Regions from separate parts of the Homo sapiens genome. Here regions 1 and 3 are each linked to region 2. The links come from fine-mapping of genetic effects on gene expression. A gene starts in region 2. Each other region holds a variant in brackets. All regions are shown on one strand. Distances are between the middles of the regions.

What was found. PIP is the estimated chance that this variant, and not a neighbour inherited with it, causes the effect.
Region 1: its variant is the best candidate, but not a certain one, in a credible set for the expression of BRI3 in whole blood (INTERVAL, PIP 0.59).
Region 3: its variant is the best candidate, but not a certain one, in a credible set for the expression of BRI3 in whole blood (TOPMed, PIP 0.80).

Annotation. Positions count from the first base shown.
Region 1 is chr7:98,159,468-98,164,687 of GRCh38, forward strand. All of the region lies in intron 6 of LMTK2 (lemur tyrosine kinase 2), which reads left to right. Among named protein-coding and RNA genes, the nearest start is that of BHLHA15, 49 kb to the right of the region's middle. RefSeq lists enhancers at 3,780-4,289, 4,290-4,798. The variant T/C (reference allele first, on the strand shown) is at 2,812.
Region 2 is chr7:98,279,332-98,284,551 of GRCh38, forward strand. It overlaps BRI3 (brain protein I3), which reads left to right and starts at 2,355. Exons shown (of 3, transcript NM_015379.5): 1 at 2,355-2,606; 2 at 3,020-3,122. The coding sequence starts at 2,465. RefSeq lists an enhancer at 1,186-2,170 and silencers at 1,867-2,376, 2,507-2,846.
Region 3 is chr7:98,243,290-98,248,509 of GRCh38, forward strand. TECPR1 (tectonin beta-propeller repeat containing 1) reads right to left here. Exons shown (of 26, transcript NM_015395.3): 3 at 2,633-2,876; 4 at 1,596-1,778; 5 at 1,282-1,404; 6 at 178-303. The coding sequence starts at 2,857. Among named protein-coding and RNA genes, the nearest start is that of TECPR1, 6.3 kb to the right of the region's middle. The variant C/G (reference allele first, on the strand shown) is at 2,055.

The sequences.
Region 1 (5,220 bases), 120 kb before region 2:
TGTATTCAAGTGTTTTTGACAGATGGACATGCTGGATGAGGGGTTGCTTTCATGTCTGTCCCCCACTTGAAGAACTTTATGATGAGTTACTTTTATTCCCTTTGGTGATGGTGATAGTGTTGACTGACACTTACATAGTGGTTTGTTACACTGCAGTCCCTGTGCTAAGCTATTTAGTTGCCTTACCACACTTAATGATAACAAACTCCAGAGTTAGGTACCAATATTTGTCCATACTTTCCATGTGATGGCCATGGTGTGGATCAAGTGTGTAGCACAGCCAGAGCCAGAGCTTGGGTCTAGATGTGCCCTCCTAAGAGCGTGAACCAGGCTTGAAACATCTTGAAACACTTTAACCCCCTGAGAGAGCCCAAGAATCGCTTTACCTAGAGTACTCCTCATCCGTCAGCATCTGAAAATAGCAAACGTATGTGACATTTATATGTTTAAAGAGTTAGATTTATTTTCTTAAAAACCTTATTTCTTAGCATGATAATATTATTTATTGGACAGTTGGAAAGATTGTTCTTTGTGCAGTTTCATGAATAATTTCAGTAGTAATTTCTATGTGAAATTTCCTCTAAACATCTTTTCCCGCATGCAGAATATTTCATCTTTTTTAAAAGCCCATTTTTAGCATGTAATTGTTATCTTCCAAAAACAGTGGTGAGCTGTTAATTGGATGAGTCAGGTTTTAATTGATTTCTTTGCATCATCTCAGTTTTCAGAACATTGAAACTTCCATGGCTGTGCATAGAAAAATAGGAGTACCCCAAAACAAATTCCCAGTTAATTCAAATAATATTTTCATCTGTTTAAATAAAGAACAGTAAGCATCGTGATTTTTTGTTTTAATTCCTAAGTGTGATTCGAGTATTTCTCTCATTGGCAGAGGTGGTTGATTAATAAACTTGATAACATTAGCTTTTGTTGGATTATGTAATAGTTACCCTCAAATATCTGTGGCTCATTGCAACAAAGTAGTTCTCACTCATCTTAGGTGTTGGCTTTGAGTCAACTGTGGCTCTCTTCTGGGCTGCATTCATCTTCACTCTAGGATCAGTGTTTTTTCGTGCCTGTAGATGCTGGAAAAGAAAAAAAGAGAAAGTGTATTCTGATGTTGTTCCTTAAAGCATTCTTCATGGCCTCTGGGTCAAGTTTGTGAGGTTGTTTAAATCTCTCATATCTTCTGATTTGGGGGAAGGAGTGTGGAGGGGGTTTGAGTCAGTTTTCTGTTGGTTACTGAGAGAGGCTCTAGTTAAAGATTTTCCTTATAATTCTGGTTGTTTTTACATTTTGATGCCCTGTTATGTAGGCATGAACATTTAAGGTTGGTATAATTTCCTACAATTTCAACCTTCTATCATTATGAAGGGGCTCTCTTTAAGGTTAAAAGCATTAATAAAGATAAAGTCTGGTTTTATTGATACTAATATAGTTAGACCAACTTTCTTTTGGTTGGAATTTGCCTGTCAAATTATATTTCTGTCAATCCTTTTCTTCTCTGGTTTACACCTCTTGTAAATAGTTTGTTGTTAAAAAATTTTTAAATCTTGCAATCGTGGTCACTTAAAATGGAATATGTAGTTCATTTACGTTTCTTGTAATTAGTGAGATATTTGTAATTTTATCTACCTATTTGGTATTCTTTTTTGTACCCGTTACAATTTTTCTTTTTTGCTTTTTTTCTGTTCTTCTTTGGGATTCTCAATTTTTTTTGTTTGTTTCAATTTTCCCCATCTACAAGTCTGGACTTGAGATATTTGTTTCTTAATTTTTTGTGTGGTCGCACTAGAAATTACAGCATGCACATTTTTTAACCTAACAAAGTCTAAAATTAATATTTTAATCCTGCCCCAAAGGAGCTGGAAACTCCTAGAGCTCTCTCTCCATGTAAGGAAAACTGGAATTAAACCTACTTTTCTGGGCCACCCCATATTCTCTGCCATTGTGGAGGATGCTTATTCATTGGGCACTTAACTGAAGTAAGGCAGCATGCTGCACCTGGAGATACCGAGACTCAGTGTGCTCGTTGTCCTCCAGGTCGCCCAGTGAGAGGTGACACAGGATCAATTATTTAGTAGAGGCATGAGAACTAAGAGGAAGGAGTTCTCGCTGGGATTTCTCAGGGTGTTATTGCTTATTATTATATAATCGGTTTTGATGATCTCGATATGATCAGAGTTATAAAATTTATGATCTTAGGTTATTGTGATATAAAAATAGCTTCCTTTTAGTCTAGCTCTGTGTGACCCATGGAAGGTGATTTTGGCACTGACACAGCATCAACAAAAAAAAGTTAGGACACAGAGATGCGCCCTCAGGTGACAAGGCAAGTCTGCTCGTCAGAGGCCCGCTATTCTGAGCTGTTTCATGTTGCCTTTTTTGGTCCCTAAGCTCCTTATATTAATTATAAATAACAGTTGAGGCATAGTCTTTGTGAGTGACCATCACAGAAATAGAGCCGGAGGCAGCATCTATTTGACAATTGCCCGTTTCCCGGCTGATGGAGGTGGCTTGGAAAACTATCTCATATATTTTAGCATTTTCCAGTTCTTCTTTGCCCTTCTGCATGCGTTCTTGAAAGTTCCAGTAGACAATGTTAGTTTTTTCATACAATGGTCAAAGACCTTGTCCACTCCGCTTCATGTTTTCTTCTGAATGGGTTCAGAAGATGGGCTTTGTTTTAATGCTATTTTAATGTATTTTTTATAGCAGCTGTCCTTTTTGGGACTAGTAATTTAACCAGTTTTATAAAGAAACACAAAAACATGGTGGAATAACTCCTTTATGTTACCATAAATGACCCAG[T/C]GTTGATCTAGAGTATTTCTGTATCTTTATCATTGTACAGACATCTTTATGAAAATATAAGAAATACATCTGTTCTTTAACTCAGCATCCTTATAATTTTTTCCCCAACAAATTTAGAGCTCAGACTTAAATACATGTTATCCAAATACTTAGACTAAGTATTCAAAGCATATTAACTTACCTAAATTTGATTGGCTCTTATACTTTGGGGTGAATATTATGCATACAGCCTTCTAGAATGAGCAGATGTGACTTCATGAAACACATTTTATGTGACCCTCCTAAGTCACTCGGGGACGGTCACTCCTGAACATCCCGAGGAGCTCTGGTCGCCATCAAAAGCTTCCACTGGCAGTGCAGAGCTAATAGCTTGTTTAATTTAAGCGTCCCACCTAATGGTACATTGATCAATAAAATTTTTTAAGCCATCATTGTTCCTCAAATAATTAAAAATACAATTACCATATGATCCAGCTAGTTCCACTTCTGGGGATATATACAAAAGAAGTGAAAGCAGGCCCTCAGGCAGATATTTGCACACGTTATTCACAGTAATGGGTTATTATCGAAACCACTATTCACAGTAGCTGGGAGGTGGAAGTGGCCAGGTGTCCATCGATGGGTGAATGGATAAACCAAATCTGCTCTCTCTGTGCAATGGAGGATTGTTAAAAGGAAGGAAATTCCAACACAGGCTACAGCATGAATGAACCTTAAGGCCATTATGGGAAGTGAAACAAGCCAGTCACAAAAAGACAAGTTCTGGGTAATTCTACTTACAGGAGGGACCTAGAGTAGTCAGATTCCTAGAGACAGAAAGTAGAAAGGTGGGTGCCAGGGGTGGGCTGGGGCTGGGAAATGGGGAGTTGTTTAATGGATGCAAAGCTTCAGTTTTGTGAGTTGAACAAGTTCTGGAGGGGGCTGGTGGTAATGGTTGTGCAGCAAGAAGAATGTACTTAACTCTGGAATTGTAAAGTTAGACGTGGTTACAATGCCAAATGGTATTTTATGCATTTTTTTTTACCCCAGTAGAAAAAAATGGATAATTACCTCCCACAATTTAAGGTGCCATGTCAGGTGCTACCTATGTTCGGAGGCTAGGATGCCCTTTGGAAATCTTTGGTTATCACTTGGCGTGGCCAGTCATATATCAGAGTCAAGGTCATAAACACAGGGTGCCACCAACTTGTCCAGCAGTGGGAGGTCACATTGTTTCCTTGGGCAATTTCGTACATATCACTTCTGGGCTCTCGTAAACTTGAAAAGGAACAGGTTTTCCAGCAGCAAGGACTAGGGGCCTGACAGGGTTCTTGGCACTGAAGTCCAGCTTCTCCGGGCTCCCACCGTGTGGCAAGAACGGTCAGGTAGCACCAGCCCAGGGAGCCAGAGAGGGCATCTACTTGAAGGGACCGAGGGTTGTCCCATGGGACACACCAAAGTGTCTCTTTGACACTGAGCCCAGCTCCCAGCCTGGATGACCCAAAACCTGCCCAGAAACAGGCCTTTCTGATCAGAGGGGCATAACCCAAGGCAGGACCTGCCCCCTGGCCGCAATACAAAGGGCACAAAGGGCACAGAGGGCAGCGGTCTGGGCTCTGTAAAAAGCTGCTGTGGCCACGGTGAAGGACCGGCTATCGCTGCCTGTCTTAGCAGGTCAAGAGCGATTGAATGAACAGTGGCCTTTTCAGTCGTCATCCTGCAGTCATCATGCCCAATGATAACATCTCCCAAGTAGAAAGGAGAAAATATTTTTGCACTTACTTAATTCCTTGTAAGATGGAATTAACCAGCCTGTTTTTAAAAGGCACTTAATCATGGAATTTTTATGAAAGTAAATGAAAACTCCTCTGAGTGCATTTTGTAGCTGGCCTGCAGCCACAGATTTGCAATGCTGACGGTGACAATGTTTATGAGAGGAGCCGAGAGATGACTGTAGGGTGTTTTATAGAACTTGTTGCCATGGCAGGTACACGCCGCTCTCACGTGAATATCAAGGCAATGAGACTTTTGATTAAGGATCACTCACTCAACAAAAATGGATTGAGCAAATTCGAAGTGCCGGGAGCTGCCTGGTGCTTTAAGGAACACAGAAGTGAATAAGCCCCGCCCCTGACTTGCCTGCTCGGATGTTCATTCTGCCACTCACTGGTTTATCACCTTGGAAAATCCCTTAACCTCTTCTGTAAAATGGCAGTAATACTGTCTCCCCTTAGAACTGCCCTGACCATTAAGTAAGATGATGGATGAGATTACCGAGCACAAGGAAAATGCTCAGTAAGTGGTGGCCATTTTTAGTTACTAAAATTGATTGATTCTAATTATTAAATAAAAGCTTGGGTAGTGCGTATAGAAGTACGGGAGTCCTAACCAGGATCACTGGGGAAGGCTTTGTAAAGGCAGTGTGGAGAC
Region 2 (5,220 bases):
TTCTCTGGCCAGGGGCTGTCACCCTGTGGTGCCCGGACAGCTGCCCCCAGGAACAATGGCCTCCTCACTGCCTACCAGAGCCTCTACTGGCTCCAAAGCCCTTGGCCACTCCTGGCCAGTCTCCACTCTTTTTTTTTTTTTTTTTTTTGAGATGGAATCTCACTCTGTCATCCAGGCTGGAGTGCAATGGCACGATCTTGGCTCACTGTAACCTCCGCCTCCCAGGTTCATGTGATCCTCGTGCCTCAGCCTCCAGAGTAGCTGGGATTACAGGTACCCCCCACCATGGCCAGCCAATTTTTGTATTTTTAGTAGAGACGGGGTTTCACCATGTTGGCCAGCTGGTCTCGAACTCCTGACCTCAAGTGATCCACCCACCTCACCCTCCCAAAGTGCTGGGATTACAGGCATGAGCCACCACGCCCGGCCCAGTCTTCACTCTTGATCTGGCTGTTCATCAGTGCCAGGGGCCACCCCTCAGTTCCCTAGTGTACCTGGACCACCCCTCAGTTCCTTTTTCGAGGACTGTGGGTACGATGACTAGGACAGCAGGTACAAGATCGATGGGAATGGGCTTCGAAGAGCTGGTCTTGTGATAAAGAAATATGATGGTCAGGTGGGCTTGGTGGCTCATGCCTATAATCCCAGCACCTTGTGAGGCTGAGTGAGGAGGATCACTTGAGCCCAGGAGTTTGAGACCAGCCTGGGAAACATAGCAACACCCCATCTCTACAAAATATAAAAAAAAATTAGCTGGGCACTGTGGCGTGCACCTGTAGTCCCCAGCTACTTAGGAAGCTGAGATGGGAGGATCACTTGAGCCCCGGAGGTCGACGTTGCAGTGAGCCAGGGTTGCATCACTGCACTCCAGCCTGGGCCACAGAGTGAGACTCTGTTAAAAAAAAAAAAAAAAAAGATATATATATATATATATATATATATATGTATGTGTGTGTATATATACATGTGAATGATGATCCCTTATTAAAAAATAAAAATAAGGCCGGGTGCAGGGGCTGACATCTGTAATTCCAGCACTTTGGGAGGCTGATGCAAAAGGATTGGTTGAGGCCAGCAGTTTGAGACTGGCCTGGGCACATAGCAAGATCCCATACAAAAATTTTTAAAAATTAGCTGGGCATGGTGGCGTGTGCCTGTGGTCCCCAGCTACTGAGGAGGCTGAGGTGGGAGGATGGCTTGGGCCCAGGAGGTCGAGACTGCATTGAGCAATGACTGTGTCACTCTACTGCAGCCTGGGTGACAGAGCAAGAGAGCCCCCCCAGCACCCCCTACAAATTTTTTTTTTAAAAATTAAAAAGGCGCGGTTCGAGAAGAGCTGTAGTCGTCCCAGAGCTACAGTGCAGGTGATATCAAAATGCAGGTGAGAAAACTGGAGACAGAATACAGTAACGGATACAGGTGCCCCTGAAAAGGTGCAGAGGCGCTAAGGACGCAAGCAATCCTGAACGTTCCAATCGTTCGTTTTAAAGTTGTCCTGGCCAACCCGTGAAGCCTTGTATGAGGAAATGTTTCAACGAGGGCGCCTGACGCAGTCCCCGAGGCCAGAAAACACCCAGGTTTAGATACGGGCTCTGACCCGCACCTGCCACAGCCAAATCCCTCCCCCTTCTGAGCCCGATCCCGTGTTGTCCTCCAGGGGTAAGCAAAACACCTGGCAGGGCTGCCTGAAGATTAGGGAAACTGAGGAGACGCGGCAGGTGCCCAGTATTTATAGTTTTGTCCCCAAACGGGGGAGTTATTTGTAAGCACTGGCTACTACCCCCGTCAATCACCTAATTGTCCAAAAAAAGGCAAACGGAGGGAATGCGCCGCAGCTGAGCACCGCGCAGGCCGCAGCTGAGGTGCACACCCGGGTGTGCCCTTTGTATTGCTGGAAGCGCTGGCGATCATAGGGGCAGAGGGCTGGCGTTGGGGCGGCCTGGGACCCACCCGGCCCCGCCCCCTCTCAGGCCCCGCCCTCCCCCTCCTCCACCGGTAGGGGGACCTCGGCCGGCCTGGGAGATCGGGGCGTAGGGGGAGGTGGGGGTGCATCCGCGAGCCCTAAAGGTCATGACCCTATGGGGCGTCTCTGGGTCGTCGTGGGGGATGGGCGGGGGGGGGGGTCTCCCCGCCACGGGAGGTCTAGAGAGCAGCGGCGGCGGGGCGGGGCGGAGTGCAGAGGCGCCGCCGGCGGGGCGGCTTCGGGAGGGCGCGGCCCCTTTAAGACGCCCCGCCGGCCCCGCCCCCGAGCCCCGCCTCCCGCCGCCCACGTGACCCCGGTCTTGTGACTGGGCCCGGGAGGGCGGGGGAAGCCCGCGGCTCGCGCCCGCCCCGCCCCGCCCCGCGTCTGCCTCAGAGGGGCCCGAGCCACCCGGTCCGCCGCGTCCCCGCCGCCGCCGCCGCGTCCCCCGCCGGGGCCGACCGAGCCGAGCCGGGCCGGAGCGGCGGGCGCGGCCGGGCCGCCATGGACCACAAGCCGCTGCTGCAGGAGCGGCCGCCCGCCTACAACCTGGAGGCCGGCCAGGGCGACTACGCGTGCGGCCCGCACGGCTACGGCGCCATCCCCGCCGCGCCCCCGCCGCCGCCCTACCCCTACCTCGTCACAGGTGGGCCCGTAACCAACTTTCCCCGCCGGCGGCTTCCGAGGTGGCAAGCCCGGTCGGGGGACGTGGGTCCGGAGGCGGGTGGGGCCCGCCCGGGGGTCCTTCCTGGAGCTGGAGGTCCCCGGGCTGGCTTCGGGACCCGGCGCCGCCGAGGGCCAGCCTCCCCCCCGGGGCTCTAGTCCTCGGGCCCGTCGTAACCCGGCGGGGCCGGATCCCTGCCCCAGATGAACTTTGTGTCACGAGGCGCTCGCTGTTGGCAGATTAGCGCCGAATCAGGCCCGCGGTGGCCGTCCCGAGGGTGGAAAAGACCGGGGGCTTTTTTAGCGGGGTGGAGGTTGAGGGGACAGGATGAGTAGTCCCCGTGGCGGTCCGATTTCTCCTCCCTGCACCCTAATGACCTGCTTTCCCGCCCACAGGGATACCCACCCACCATCCCAGGGTCTACAACATCCACAGCCGGACCGTCACCCGCTATCCTGCCAACTCTATCGTGGTCGTAGGAGGCTGTCCTGTCTGCAGGTGAGTGGGTCTGCAGCCTGGGGACTGGCCCTGGAAGCTCTGAGGACCCCCGCCCTAACCCCCAGGACCTCACAGCTCTGCTTGTGGGAGTGGGTCCGGCTTGACTTGGATCTTGACCAGAGCCCTTTATGGGAGGGACAGACAGGCTGCCCGAATGCGGTGTGGGAGAGTGCGGGTCCGCTCACCCTTGGCTCTGAACACATTTTGTGGGGGCAAAAGGGTGGATTCCTTTTCCTAGATCTTGGGGCATTGCACCCCAAGTGATTGGGATGTAGAAATGGTAACAACGGGACTCGTGGTCCTTTCGTCTTTGTTCTGGGACTTGCAAGGAATCAGGTGTCTGCTTTTTCCTTCACTTTCCGCAAGTTTACTCTGCAGTTGATCGTCGAAGGTGGTGGAAGGTTTCATTTTCCCGGAAGGGGCATTTGGAAGTAAGTGCACCAGCAGGACAGACCTCAGTGGGAGAAGCGACGGCCGTAAGAGCTGCTTTATCCAAAGTTGGCTTGAAACGCTCTTCCACGAGCTGGACCAGGATGGAAACCCCGTGTTTCTTTGAGGCAGGAGTTATTTTTTTCATATCCTCGCATTGGACCTGCACACGCTTTTTGGTTTTTATAGGGCCCCGAGGTGCAGCTAGAGGCTTGTTTTGTGGAGGTTTTGAGGATTCACATTTAAATAAGGATTAATTAAATATAAACCCTTGGCAGCTGGGGGTGTTCAGATTGCTTAGAAAGTAGGGGCAGAGTTGGCCGGGACAGGGTTTTCAGCTGTGTCTCGGAGGAGGAAGTTGAAGCCACTGAGATGGAATTAAGAAACCCTGGTTTGGACTTAGACTTGATTTCAAAAGTGTGTGTGTAAGGCCTAGAGTGGAGTCACGGGGAAGTGAGTGATTTCAGAGCCTTAGCAGGCAACTTCCTGGGAAGGAAGGGCAACCTAGAGGTGGGGACAAGAGGCTGGGACCTCGGGGGCAGGTTGTGGCTGCTTGCCTGCACAGGGACCCCGTGACAAACCCTAACTGGGACGTCAGTTTGACACAGTTGGTCACCACCCAGCAGAAACATTAGCCTTTGGAGTGAAGGTGGAGGGAGGGCAGGGTGGGGCGCTGGCTGCCTTCGGGACATAGTTCTCTCCCGGAGCTGCACCGGGTTGGGGGGCTGGCAGAGCTGTGTGAGTGTGAAGGCACATGGAGGGGACTCAGAACATGGAGGAGCAGAGGGTCTGCCTGCGTGTCATTGTCCATGCCCTGCCATCCCGGTGTCCAGCCTGCCGGAGGAGCCGGGTTCCGGTCCTGGTCCTGCCAGGAACAGCGGGGCTTGTTTCCCCACCTGGGACGTGGGGGTGTCTGGTGAGGTGTCTCTGAAGCTCTTAGCTCTTCTCTGCCCAAACCCCTGAACTTGGAGAGGTGAGAGACCAGCGGCAGCGAGGGATGGGCCAGATATCCCAGGGCTGGGGGGCGCCGAGGTGGTGGCGCAGTTGCTGTCGGTATGGGGGCACTGGCCCTGCCACTTCCCCTTCCCTAGGTGGGAACTGTGTCCCTGCGGAGGCCCATGGCTTCCGCTAACCTGGAGGTGCTCTCCAGTTATGCAGAACCTGGAGCGGGGTCAGACTGTGCTCTGCTGGGAAGGATCTTGGGCTCGGCCCTCAGAGGCTGTAGGGGTGTGGGGTCCTTGGTTACTTAATCACTGCTCTCTGCCTCTGGGCAGCTGCACCAGGCAGGGTGGAGGCTGGGTCCTCTCTGGACAAGGTTGGGGGGTCCTTAGTCCTTTAAGTTGGGACCAGAGCACTCTTGGATCCTGCGGCGACCCCTTGGGTTGCAGCCAGGCCCTCCCAGCACACACGTCCCTGCGCTCTGCCCGTGGTGCCTTGGATGCTGGAGAGTGGCTCTGGCTCCCCGAGGCTTTGCCTCTGCAGCTGCATTGGGCATGGGATGGGCCCCTGTGCCCTGTGGCAGCCAGAGGGCGAGCAGGGGGCTGGGTGCTCTGCTGCTGGCGTGGGTGGGGTGTGTGGTCCCTGGGCCACTCCTCTCTGCGAGGAGAGTGGAGACGGTTCCCTGAACACACAACACACACGTCTGGCCGCTGCCTGGCGTCTTGGCCCG
Region 3 (5,220 bases), 36 kb before region 2:
GCTGAGGCTGGGCACTGATCAGCACGCTGGGGGCTCGGAGGAGAGAAAGGCCAGGAGCAGGCATGGGGTGGGGGGGCCGGGGCTCCGGGGAGGAGCAAGACCCAGGGGGTGCACAGGACAGGACCCACAGGAGGTGGGATCGTGGGGAGCCAGGGCAGGGAGAGGGGTTGGCCTTACCTTGCCCTGCAGAGACACAGCCCACACTGACAGGCGGCCCACAGGCTCCTCCGTGATCTCCCAGCCCCCTACAGAGAGGTCGTTGAAGGGGTCGGGCAGCTCCTTGGGGTCATCCTTCGAGGGGATCTGAAGGAAGGAAGTGAGAAATGGTAGCAGTCAGCGCCCAGTGGGCACCTGGGCATGCACCCACCTCCCGCCCGCCTGCCATCCGGACTTCCATTCTTCAGCCCAGCCTGCAGCTGCCTTAATTCACAGGGAAGGCAGCATCAGGACTGTGGGGGCCCCTGCCCGGCTAATTTTTGTATTTTCAGTAGAGACGTGGTTTCACCATGTTGGCCAGGCTGTTCTCAAACTCCCGGCCTCAAGTGATCCACCTGCCTTGGCTTCTCAAGTGCTAGGATTACAGGCATGAGCCATCACACCCAGCCTCTACAAAAAATTTAAAAGTTAACCGGGCATGGTGGTGCATGCCTGTAGTCCCAGCTACTAGGGAGGCTGAGGTGGGAGGATTGCTTGAGCTCAGGAGTTCCAGGCTGCAGTGAGCTGTGACTGTACCACTGCACTCAACAGAGTGCAACAGAGCGAGACCCTATCTCTAAAAAGAAAAAAAAATAGGGCCAGCTCCCTGGTCTCCTGGCTTCTCCCAGTCCCAGGGGCAGCCCCACCTGACAGCCCTGTATGTCCCAGGGAGGCCTCCACTCATTGGAGGCCACGCCAAGACCTGGGTCCAGTGCTGTGCTCCCTAAGCTGGGAGGTTCTTCTGGGTCATGGAGCAACGCTAGAGCCAGAGGTGCCTCCCTTGGCTGAGGGGGAGGACAAAGTGCCAGATGGAGGCTCAGTCTGGGACAGAGCAGCTTGGACACCAGGGTCAGGGCAAGTTCTGTGCTGTCCTGGGCCTGGCCTGGCTCCCTGTGTGACTATCTCCCAAGTGAAGGGACACGCAGTGTCGTGGTGTTCCCGGGACAGGAAACAGCTCAAAGGCCAGGTCCCGAGGTGGGCGTGGTGTCCCCTGGTGCACACAGGTGGGGAAGGTGGAGAGGAGGCTGCATGTGACACTCTGTCCTGGCCCTATCCTGCCCCCAACCCACATTCAGGAACAGAGACCTTGGCCCAGATGTCCCGGGACTTGTATCTCCTGTACCGGATCCACTTCCGGCGCCGCACACAAGAATTCCACTTCTTGTCTTTCGTGTAGGTGGCGGGAAAGTCGATGGCGTACGTCCACCCCTGAAACACCAAGGAAGGGGCTCTCAGGCTCTGCGGGGAAGGCATTTGAAGAGCTGGGGAAGGTGGGGAGGGAGGGTGTGGCCTGAAACACCCGAGCTCAGGCACCACAGGGTGCAGGGGACAGAAGCAGGGACAGGCGGGAGGCACCCCCTCCCCACAGGGCAGTCATGGAGGGTCCCAAGTTCACCTACCCCTTTCTCAGTGGGTTCACCTCCAAAATTCTCATCCACGTACCAGTCAGACTCCCACTCCCAGTGCGGCGAGGGCAGTGCCACCCTGTCCAGCGGCCGGTGCTGGAGCCCACTCACGTCACTCCACCCCCAGCGGTCACTCAGCAGGAGCTTCTCACAGAAGCCGCCCATGGGATTCCAGCGCTGAGGGCCGGGGACACAGAGGCGGCCTTGGACCCAAGCCTGCTGGGCGGGAACCCAGGCGGGCCAGGCATCTCCAGGACCAGCTGACCCTGCCCAGCCGACCCCCTCATTGATCTCCAGAATAGGAAGTGAGCAGAGGGCCTGTGTGGGACCCAGCAACTGGGGACCCCCATGCCACTTCATCATGAGCCAGCAAGTACATCAGCACAGCCCCAAAGGGCAAAGAACCTCCTGCCAGCCACGGCGCTGTGAGCAGGGCAGGCGGTGGAGGGCACA[C/G]CTTGTCCTAGGCTCCCAGAAACCACTGGAGCCTGCCCTCGTGGGGACCTGGCCAGACTGCTTTGGTGAGGACACAATAGTGGCTTCAGCCTCAAAGACCCTGGATACTATGCAACTTGAATTTTTTTTGGAGGGGCGGGGTGCAGGGGGACAGGGTCTTGCTCTGTTGCCCAGGCTGGAGTGCAGGGCACGATTATGGCTCACTACAGCCTTGACCTCCCTGGCTCAAGTGATCCTCCTGCCTCAGCCTCCTAAGTAGCTGGGACTAAAGGTGCACACCACCACACCCTGCTAATTCTTGTATTTTTTTTGTAGAGGCAGAGATTCACCATGATGCCTAGGCTGGTCTCAAACTCCTGAGCTCAAGCGATCTGCCCGCCACAGCCTTCCAAAGTGCTGGGATTACAGGCGTGAGTCACCACGCCTGGCAGCAACACAGATTTTAAGTACAAGGAAGGAAATGAAGGCAGGAACTGGTGGGGAATCTGGGGCCTCTATTTCCCTTCTGTGGTTCATCATTTTAACCAATAACCCAGCGAACTGACCCGCTCGGCAACTCCAACCATGAGGGTCACTACCTGATTCTCATAGGCCTCCTCTCGGCGGCGGATGGGGACATCGCTGGCACACACATACACGTAGACCTGGTTGTCACAGGCAATGCCCCAGCAGCACTGCGTGGTGGCGCTGACGCGCTTGAACTCCAGCTGGGAGTCCTTGCACATTTCCCAGTACTGGCCTGCTGTGGACAGCGTGTACACTCTCCCGAAGAGGTCCACCGCCCACAGCACTGAGTTGGGCATGGCAGCGGCTGGAGGTAACCTGCGGCAGGAGGACGAGGGCCAGCGTTCAGGCTCCCAGCCCAGGGGACATCAGAGTCATGTGAAACCTGGGAGACTTCTACTGTGACTATTTATTCTTTTTCTCTTTTTTTTTTTTTTTAGATGGAGTCTCACTCTGTCACCCAGGCTGGAGTGCAGTGGCGCAATCTTGGCTCACTGCAACCTCCACCTCCAGGGTTCAAGCAATTCTCCTGCCTCAGCCTCCCAAGTAGCTGGGATTATAGGCACCTGCCACCATACCCAGCTAGTTTTTGTATTTTTAGTAGAGACGGGGTTTCGCCACATTGGCCAGGCTGGTATCGATCTCCTGACCTTGTGATCTGCCTGCCTCAGCCTCCCAAAGTGCTGGGATTACAGGCGTGAGCCACCGCGCGTGGCCAACTGCTTATTCTTTCTTTTTTTGTTTATTTTTTTGAGACGGAGTCTCGCTCTGTTGCCCAGGCTGGAGTGCAATGGCACGATCTTGGGATCTTGGCTCACTGCAACCTCCACCTCCCAGGTTTTCTCCTGCCTCAGCCTCCCCAGTAGTTGGGACTACAGGTGCACGCCACCACGCCTGGCTAATTTTTGTATTTTTAGTAGAGACATGATTTCACCATGTTGGACAGGCTGGTCTCGAACTCCTGACCTCAGGTGATCCACCTGCCTCTGCCTCCCGAAGTGTTGGGATTAGAGGCATGAGCCACCACGCCCGGTCTCTTTTTTGTTTTTGAAAGAATTTAAAAATAGATCACTTGAGGCCAGGAGTTCAAGACCAGCCTGGTCAACATGGTGAAACCTCATCTCTACTAAAAATACAAAAATTAGCCAGGCACAGTAGTGTGTGCCTGTAGTCGCAGCTACTCAGGTGGCTGAGGCAGGATAATGGCTTGAACCCGGGAGATGGAGGTTGCAGTGAGCAGACACAGTGCCACTGCACTGCAGCCTAGGTGACAGAGGGAGACCCTGTCTCAAAAAAAAAGAATTTAAAAAGTAGAGACAGGGTCTTGCTCGGTCACCCAGGCTGGAGTGCAGTGGTTTGATTACAACTCGTTGCGGCCTCGAACTCCTGGGCTCAAGTGATCCTCCTACCTCAGCCTCCTGGGACAACAACAGACATGCACCACCATACCCAGCTAATTAAAAATTTTTTTTTTGTAGAGACAGAGTCTCACTATGTTGCCCAAGCTGGTCTCAAACTCCTAGTCTCAAGCAATCCTCCCATCTCGGCCTCCCAAACTGCTAGGATTACAGCCTTGAGCCACCATGCCTGGCCAGATCTTTGTTTTCAAAAGAATCAATGAAAGCTTACAGGTTTAGTTGAATCTCGAAAGATATAACTACCCCACTACTTCCCCAGGGGTCCTTCCCCAGAGTGGGCAGGTCTCCCCGCCATGTTGGCCTCTATCTGGGCATAATGAGGGCACGTTGAGAGCCAACGTGACCATGTGAATTCAGGGACGTAGGGGTCTTTTCTTCATGCGCCCTCAGTGACTCCTTCCTCCTCTTCCCCCGGCTCTCTTCTTCTGCCATTCTCTACTCCTTTCTTTTTCTTTTCTTTTCTTTTTTATTTTTTAAGAGAGTATCTTGCTCTGTTGTCCAGACTGGAGTACAGTGGTGCAATCATAGCTCACTGCAGCCTTGAACTCCTGAACTCAAGCCATCCTCCTGCCTCAGCCTCCTGAGTGGCTGGGACTACAGGCATGTGCCACCGTACCTGGCTAATTTTTAAAATTTTTTTTGTAGAGATGGGGTCTCGCTATGTTGCCCAGGCTGGTCTTGAACTCCTGGCCTCAAGCGATCCTCCCACCTTGGCCTCCCGAAGCGCTGGGATTATAGACGTGAGCCACTGCACCCAGCCCTTTCTCTCTTCTTTCTCTGTGCTTTGTAGGCATAGCCAAGGCTATTGCTAAGCTCTGCCACTGACCACCCCTGGCCCCACCTCCAGGGCCCATAGTGCTGTTGCACCCAGGGGTGTCCTTCCTGGAGTCCTGGCTCCTGATAGGAACAGTCTTTCCACCGTGGCAGGGCCACATGGCCACACACAAGGCAGCCAAACACAGAGCTACTGGATGAAGCCACCAGGGCCATCACCTGAGAAGCTCTGCCCGACAGGGCGGCTCCTAGATCCAACCCAGGACACTGGCCCGGGGCCTGAAGAGAGGAAAGAGCCTACAGATGAAGACATGGCCAGTCTGACTTAAAAACCGGAGCAAAAGGAGACAGGCAGAGTTTATTTAGGTGCCTGGAGGCTGGGCCCAGTGCTCCCGCAGCATACCAGAGCCATGCGGGTGCTCCAGACGGCCGGGTGACTGTGACGATGGCACGAGATAGAAGCATGTCTG